Regions from separate parts of the Homo sapiens genome. Here regions 1 and 3 are each linked to region 2. Evidence: fine-mapped expression QTL. A gene starts in region 2. Each other region holds a variant in brackets. All regions are shown on one strand. Distances are between the middles of the regions.

Region 1 (2,760 bases), 52 kb after region 2:
GTATAAACATGATTGGTTATTTCCCCCTTTCTGGCCCTCATTTTACCTGATTGTAAAATGGACTCCCGACTCCCAATGCCTTCCAGAGATGGGAAGATGCACAGGAGGGCAGTTTGTTTTCCTGGGGCCCTCAGGAGGTGAGGTCTTGAAGGACCTGAGGCAGCTAAAAAAAAAAAAAAAAAAAAAAAAAGCAGGGCATCGTAGCACGTGCCTGTAATTCCAGCACTTCAGGAGGCTGAGGCGGGCGGATGGCTTGAGCTCTGGGGTTCAGGACCAGCCTAGGCAACATGGTGAAACCCCAACTCTACAAAAAATACAAAAATTAGCTGGGCGTGGTGGCACATACCTGTAATCCCAGCTACTCGGGAGGCTGAGGTGGGAGGATTGCTTGAGCCTTGGGAGATCGAGGCTGCAGTGAGCTAGAATTCCAGCTCTGCACTCCAGCCTGGGTGACAGAGAGAGACCTTGCCTCAAGAAAATAAATAAATAAAAGAGGCTGTGCCTGGCCTTTCTGGGAACCTGCCCTCCCTCCCAGGCCCCCCCAGACTCCTTTCCTCATCTGCTGGGCCAACTCCCTGGCCCTTTTCTACCAGTAAATGGAGGAAGCATGGGAGAGATTTTCACCAGGACCGGAAAATGTCCAGCTCCCACCCCATCTCCAGTTGGATGGGAAAGTGTTAGACTGGGCTTGTGGAAGAGGCGCAAAGCGAGGATCTTTGTGGGACAGCTCCTATTCATACTGTCAGAGCTACTGTGGAGGGTGCAGGAGACACTGCTGCCTGCCTTTATGGGGAGAACCGTTCCTCTCCTGCGCTGCTGTCTTTCCTCAGAATGGGCCCTACCAGCTGCACTCCTCCGACACCAACCTGCCGGCCACGTGAGGGAGCATCCTGGAAGCAGAGGTTTGTCCTAAAGTTTCCTTTCTGCTTTCCCTCTCCCCAACCCTGTGCCTTCCAGACCAGTGACAAGACCATCCTGTACTCGGTGGCCACCACCCTGGTGAACTGCACCAACAGCTACGATGTCAAGGAGGTCATCCCAGAGCTTGTCCAGCTCGCCAAGTTCTCCAAGCAGCATGTGCCCGAGGAACACCCCAAGGTAGGGTCAGGCGCGACCCGGGAGGGGTCTGGTCTGTGCCACTAGGCCTCCAAAGGAGGCGGAACGGCAAAAGGAGTGGTGTCAGGAGTGGCACGGTGTGTGTTTGGGTGGTTGGGGGTAAGATACACATACATTGAATATGTTAATGGTAAACTTTCCC[A/C]CCAGATGGTGCTCATGCTTTTTCTTTGTTTTTATTTTCTATTTTGAAAAAAATCCAACAATTTATAGTCTGAGAAAACAAACAGAGCCATGATGGACACTTTGCAATTTGTGTTGTTGATTTTATGGATAAAAGACAGTTTTATTTCATGTCTCCAACAGATAACAATTTGATTTTCTCAGATTTCTGGATTTTGTGACATGGGTGCTAAGTAGGAATCATGAGAGGAGAGGCATGGTCAGCATTAGCCCAGAAGTCACAGATCCCCTGGAACCCTCTCCAACAATTCCCTGCACATGAAGATATGATTTGTGTGTGATTTGTTTAAGAATATATGCAAGATATTGCCAGCCAATAAAATCATTTAGATTTTTTTAATGATCAAAGTAATATAATCATGCTGCAAAACGAGTTAAAATGTGGGGAAAAGAAAATAACCACTCATGATTACGTCATCTCCACATGACTGCTGTTGGCATTTTGATGTTATGTTACCTACCAGAGGCTTTTTTTCTATGTATCTTTTTTCCTTTCACAGTTATAATTAGAATATATTTATCATTTTGTGCCCAATTTTGGAAAAATATGTTTTTCACATTGCCATCTCATTCTCTGAATCATTTTTATTTTATTTATTTATTTTTTGAGACAGAGTCTTGCTCTGTCACCCAGGCTGGAGTGCAGTGGTGAGATCTCGGCTCAATGCAACCTCTGCCTCCCAGGTTCAAGTGATTCTCCTGCCTCAGTCTCTCAAGTAGCTGGAATTCCAGGCATGCACCACCATGCCCGGCTAATTTTGTGTTTTCAGTAGAAACAGGGTTTCACCATATTGGTCAGGCTGGTCTCAAACTCCTGACCTCAAGTGACCCACCCACCTCGGCCTCCTAAAGCGTTGGGAATCCAGGCATGAGCCACCACACCTGGCCTCTGAATCATTTTTGAAAGCTGCATGATGTTTCATCCAGGCAAGGGTGCAGAGCATGTGCTGTGGCTGTGAAGTTCCAGTGTGGCTTCCAGGGCTTGCCCAGGGTTGTCAGCCCCTTCCCCACCACTCCTCACTCTGAGGATTATCTGTAGGGACTCTTTAACCCTGGGTTGACTTTGGGTTTCCAGCAAACCCAATCCATTGTTATGGCGGCTTCATCCACTGTGTCCTTTCCTGCCTATACCCTCTCTCTACCTCCACTCCCACCTCAGCCTTCTCCAAGAAAAACAATATACGCATCATTTAGTCTTTTGGATTATCCGTCTTTTATTTCATTCCTCTGTGAATGAGAGAATCTTTGGGACTGGTTTTCTACGGTATCAGCTCCTCAGGCTCTGTCTTGGGATTAGGTAAGGCAAGGAAGAAGAGAGGAGAGACAATCACACACGACAGCAAGGCGTGCTGTATACCCCTTGGCAGTTGCTTGGGAAGAGGGAATCTGGAGAAGTGTCTTAGTTTCCTATTGTTTCTAGAACACATTGCCACACGCACTGTGGCCTAAAACGCAATTTTTATA
Region 2 (2,758 bases):
GCAGTAGCACGATCTCGGCTCACTGCAACCTCTGCCTCCCGGGCTCAAATGATTCTCCTTCCTCAGCCTCCCGAGTAGCTGGGATTGTAGGCGTGGGCCACCACACCCAGCTAATTTTTGTATTTTTAGTAGGGACAGGGTTTCACCATGTTGGCCTGGATGGTCTCGAACTCCTGACTTCTGACTCCAAGTGACCCACCCGCCTCGGCCTCCCAAAGTGCTGGGATTACAGGCATGAGCCACCGCGCCCAGCTGGCTTGGGATGGACTTTTTAAAAAGACACTCAGGTTTGGAATGTGGAGATCAGGAGCTCACCTTGTAAGACAAGCCACATTTCTGAGCTACCTCTTCCAGGTCTGCAGAAACCAGGTCCACCACTGAAAACAAAACACGTATAGCGGATTGGCAGAGAGGACTGGGGCCTCCCACACTTGGTTTTTCCTCATCTGTCAAATGGGGTGTCAATTCTACCCCCCGGCAGGCCGTCTCAGGAGGCCAGTGTGAAATAACAAAGCTGCAGGAGCCGGCGCGGTGCCCTGCACACAGTAGGAATCTCTACCCTGTTTTAGAGCTTGGCTCCCCACGCCCACCCTTCCTGAGCCTCTCCAGAAGCGCGGCCCTCTAGGAATGGAGGGGAAGCGCCCTGCAGGTATGCCAGGGCAGTGCGCCAGCCCTCGGGGCCTGCCCAGGTTGTGCGAGGCCCGCGCGGCTCCCTGGCACGCGCACACCCGGTCACCTGTCTTGATCCTGTGGCTCCTGAGAAGCTGGATCATCTCCTCGGTAAGGCCAGGGCACAGTCCGACCCTGAGCACGCCCATGTTCCCCGCAGGCCGGAACAGCCCCAGGGGGACTGCACGTCACGTGGGCATTCGCGGGGGGTCCTCTCCAGACGCCCCTCCCCTACCCCTTCCTAGAGAGGACACAGGCGCGCTGGCTGCCGGAGGAGAAAGGAGAGAGGAGGAGGCGGCACCAAGGGTAGGGCTGGGGGTCATCCGCCCGCCCGGGATCCGCCGGGATTCCCGCGCCCAGAGCCCGCCCGCCGGGTCGCGCCGCGCTGCCGCTTCCGGGTTCCAGGCTGGCGCGCGGCGAGGACCTGGCCTGCAGCGCCATCTGCGGGCCGCACGGGGCAGAGCCGCTGCGCCCCTCTCCACCGCCTGCACAGGTTCCCGAGTCCCACGACCCCCTCCGCGCTCAACACGCCACCCGCGGCCACATTCGGCCTCTACCTTCTGCCGCAACACACACACCGACCTTCTAAAGAGCCTTCTGTGCGCCAGCTTCCGTTCCAAACGGAACGGATCTCCGCTGGAGACAAAATGCGACACAAGACGACCCGCCCTTACCCCCAGGGAGCTTACTGTGAGCAAGGGAAAGACAGACAATGAAAAGGAATCGCAGAAATCACATCATTACAGATTATACGACAGGTGTCAAGAAGCAGCAAAGCATCCAGAGGGCACCTGCGTCTATTTTTCAAAAGTTTGTTTTGTTTTGGTTGAGACAGGGTCTCGATCGGCCGCCCAGGCTGGAGTGCCCTGGTGAGATCTCAGCTTTGCAGCCTCGACCTCCTGGGTTCAAGCGATCCTCCTGCCTCAGCCTCCTGAGTAGCTGGGACTACAGTCACGTGCCACCTTGCCCAGCTAATTTTTGTATTTTTTGTAGAGGTTTCGCCTCTACAAAATGGGGTTACACCATGTTGCCCACACAGGTCTCGAACTACTGGGCTCAAACAATCCTCCTGCCTTGGTCTCCCGAAGTGCGGGGATTACAGGTGTGAGCCACCGTGCCCGGCCTCTATTTTTTATTTTATTTTTTATTTTTTTTAAGGGCAAGAAACCTTGGTTATATAGAACACACACAAAAAGATATGATTTGGTATTTTTAAATGTCCTTTGCTTTGCCTCATCCATAGGAAGAAATAAAACTTTACATGGTTATCTCATCACAAATCTGTGAGGGAGGCGCTATTTTTTATCCCTGTTTCACCAATGAAGAAACTGAGGTTCAGTGAGGTTAAATCACTTGCCAAAGGTCACCCAGCTAGGCGGCACAGGGCTGGACTTCACATCCACATCTGACTCTGCAAAGCCAGTGCTTTCTAACAGCCCCCCTCCCCACCCCTGAAGCTGTGTACATGTTTTCCTACTGTAAGGTGGTTTCTCTGAGAGCAGAGATCATGTGTGGCCCATCTCTGTATCCCACTGCAACTGCCACCATTGTCACTCCACACAGGAAAGTACTTGGGAGTGTGGGTGTGGCACATTTAGAATTCTAGCAGTGAAGTCTGATCATATGTGAGCCATGAACCCCTATGAACCATGTGGGCTTTCCCTTTCACTAACCGACTGGGCACAGTGGAGTCTGCAGCCTATGGTTTCAGGATAGAGAGCCTTAGCTTCTACGGACAAAGTTTCCCTCCCCAGCAGACACTTTCCAATACTGCCTATCTCTCAGGGCCACACCACCATCCTCTACATCCCACGCCCATCTCTCACCATCCTTATTCTCCTTCCCAGGGCAGTGCGGAAGGACACAGGTGTCAGGCATTTTGAGATCTTCAGAGAAGGGCAGGGCTGCCATCACCATGGAGTATTAGAGCTGGAAGGGGCCCAAGGGCTCATGCAGTCTGTTCCTTGGTTTTACCCCTCTCATGATGCTGCTTCACAGTCACACTGGCCCTTGGTCTGGCCAGCCACATAGCTAGCCTGGCAGCAGTAGCCTCAAATCAAGGGGGGAGGCTGGCCTGTAATTGTTACAC
Region 3 (2,760 bases), 23 kb before region 2:
TTGGGAGGCTGAGGCAGGCAGATCATCTGAGGTCAGGAGTTCGAGACCAGCCATGGCCAACATGATGAAACCCCATCTCTACTAAAAATACAAAAAATTAGCCGGACATAGTGGCAGGCGCCTGTAGTCGTAGTCCCAGCTACTCAGGAGGCTGAGGCAGGAGAATCACTTGAACCCGGGAGGCAGAGGTGCAGTGAGCTGAGATCACGCCACTGCACTCCAGCCTGAGCAAGAGCAAGACTCCATCTCAAAAAGAAAAAAAAAATTGACCTGAGGAGGCTTTACTTGGGCCCTTAACAAACTGCAGCCTTAGTATGCAAACTAACTGAAAACCTAATTTAGGAGTATACTTTTGTAACAGATTGCTGAGGCTCAGCCAATCACATCATCAGCTTCAGTGGGTTCCAGGCAGCCAACTATTCAAACCATTTTCAAATAAGGCAAAGGCAGAGCTGTAACCAATTAGTTGTCTTTGTATCTCATTTCTGTTTTCTGACCATAAATGCTTTCAGACTATGTTGCAGCTCTGGAATTCTCTGAACCTGTCCTGGTTCTGAGGGCAGCCCAATTCTAGAATTGCAAATAAAAGTCAATTACAATCTGCAAAACTATATTTGCTTTAATTTTGTCTTTTAACACCTTGTTTTCTTAATTTTTATTATTTTATTTTATAGAGATAGGGTCTTGCTATGTTGCCCAGGCTGGTCTGGAACTCCTGGCCTCAGGCGATCCTCCTACTTTGGCTTCCCAAATTACTGGGATTACAGTCAGGAGCCACAGTTCCTGGCATGTTAACACCTTGTTCTTTAAAGGACACACAGGAGGCGATCCTTCTCCTGCCTGTAGATATTGTCACGTCTGGATTGATGCTCAAAATGGCTGCAGCCAGGCTTTCATAAGGGGAACAAGCTTGAAGACAAAACCAACATAAAAGAACAGAGCAGAAGGATGCAAAGGCTCTACGCCATTTGACAATGAGCCACTAAATTAACAAACCTCAGACTTCCTGTTATCAGAGATAATAAGTGTCCCTGCCAGGCATGGTGGCTCATGACTGTAATCCCTAGCACTTTGGGAGGTCAAGGCGGGTAGATCACCTGAGCCCAGGAGTTCAAGACCAGCCTGGGCAACGTACAGAGACCCCGTCTCTACAAAAAATACAAAACTTAGATGGGTGTGGTGGCACACACCTGTAGTCCCAGCTACTTGGGAGACTGAAGTGGGAGGATCACTTGAGCTTGGGAGGTAGAGGGTACAGTGAGCCGTGATTGTGCCACTGCACTCCAGAGCAAGACTCTGTCTTGAAACATAAAAGAAATAAATATAAATAAGTGTCCCTAGTATTTACACTTCTTTAAGCCTAGGTTTTGTTACTTGCAGCCTTAATGATACATGGACCTTTGCCTGAGTCCTTGGGAATTCAAATGCCTGATTTTTAATTAAGGCCATCAAGTGCTAGCACATAGTAGGATCTCAACATTAATTTCATCTGATGTCAGACGAAGGGCATACAATAGTCCCCTGTAAAAAGATATGTAAGAAGACACTCTGGGGACTCAATGATGTGGGTGTGAACATATATATATATTTTTTAGATGGAGTCTCACTCTGTTGCCCAGGCTAGAGTACAGTGGCACAATCTCGGCTCAC[T/C]GCAACCTCCATCTCCCAGGTTCAAGCGATTCTCATGCCTCAGCCTCCCAAGTAGCTGGGATTACAGATGCGAGCCATCACACCCAGCTAATTTTTGTATTTTTAGTAGAGACAGGGTTTCACTATATAGGCCAGGCTGGTCTTGAACTCCTGACCTTGTGATCCGCCCACTTTGGCCTCCCAAAGTGCTGGGATTACAGGCGTGAGCCACTGCGCCTGGCTCATATGTGTATATATATGTGTGTATATATATGTGTGTATATATATATATGTGTGTATATATATGTATATATATGTGTGTATATGTGTGTGTGTGTGTGTGTATATATATATATATATGTATATGTATATGTATATTTTTTTCCTAAGAACTAGAGAGTGCCCTCAGGTCTCAAACCACCCCCGCAGGGGAAATTGAAAGTTGACGCTTTATGGAAGGAACCCCTGAGATAGAGCCAGTCCTTTGCTTTTTTAAAATATATTTTTAAAACATCATTCATCTATTTAATCATTACTGAGCTTCCATAATGTATAAAGAGAAAAAGTGACAAAAAGTGGGAGCCTGTAGGCAGACACGTGAACAGAAAGTACAAGTGAATAACTAATACAGGGAAGTTACTGTAAGCATCTATCTAGATCACAGCTGAGGCATAAAAAAGGATGTCAGGGTGGGTGTGCACCAGACACAGTGGGAGCTGGGCAGAGACAGACACATAAGCAAAGGGAGCAAAAGGCACTTGGACAGGAGAGCCAGCCTAGCCCAAGTCCTACCAGGGGACTGCACAGTGTGGTGTGGCCGGAACAGAGTGCAGTGGCAGCAGGCAGGCAAGACAAAGTCCTGGTCTAGGAGGAGCCAAAGGATGAAGCTGGCTGTGAGGGGCACAGCCTGCAGGAATGTCACGTGGTGGTCTCAAGTAGCAGTGAATGCAACACCTTCCCATGGCCACAGAAACTCCTTGGGTGACAGCTGTGGTGCCTTCAGCTGGAGTTACAGCCCTAGCAGGAATAGAACTGTATGGACTGAAAATTAAATAAAATGTGGGGATTTTTTTTTTCTTTTTGAAACAGAGTCTCTGTTGCCCAGGCTGGAGTGCAGTGGCATGATCGCAG

What was found. PIP is the estimated chance that this variant, and not a neighbour inherited with it, causes the effect.
Region 1: its variant is fine-mapped to the expression of RAD51D in whole blood (INTERVAL, PIP above 0.99). The same link has a PIP of 0.9 or more in blood mononuclear cells.
Region 3: its variant is fine-mapped to the expression of RAD51D in whole blood (TOPMed, PIP above 0.99).

The regions. Positions count from the first base shown.
Region 1 is chr17:35,170,365-35,173,124 of GRCh38, forward strand. UNC45B (unc-45 myosin chaperone B) reads left to right here. Exons shown (of 20, transcript NM_001267052.2): 13 at 958-1,098. Among named protein-coding and RNA genes, the nearest start is that of SLC35G3, 23 kb to the right of the region's middle. The variant A/C (reference allele first, on the strand shown) is at 1,259.
Region 2 is chr17:35,118,796-35,121,553 of GRCh38, forward strand. RAD51D (RAD51 paralog D) reads right to left here and starts at 1,065. Exons shown (of 10, transcript NM_002878.4): 1 at 737-1,065; 2 at 316-377. The coding sequence starts at 818. RAD51L3-RFFL (RAD51L3-RFFL readthrough) reads right to left here and starts at 2,727. Exons shown (of 7, transcript NR_037714.1): 1 at 2,496-2,727. RefSeq lists a silencer at 928-1,127 and an enhancer at 1,338-1,397.
Region 3 is chr17:35,095,546-35,098,305 of GRCh38, forward strand. It overlaps RAD51D (RAD51 paralog D), which reads right to left. Exons shown (of 10, transcript NM_002878.4): 10 at 1-2,760. All of the region lies in intron 5 of RAD51L3-RFFL (RAD51L3-RFFL readthrough), which reads right to left. Among named protein-coding and RNA genes, the nearest start is that of RAD51D, 23 kb to the right of the region's middle. The variant T/C (reference allele first, on the strand shown) is at 1,651.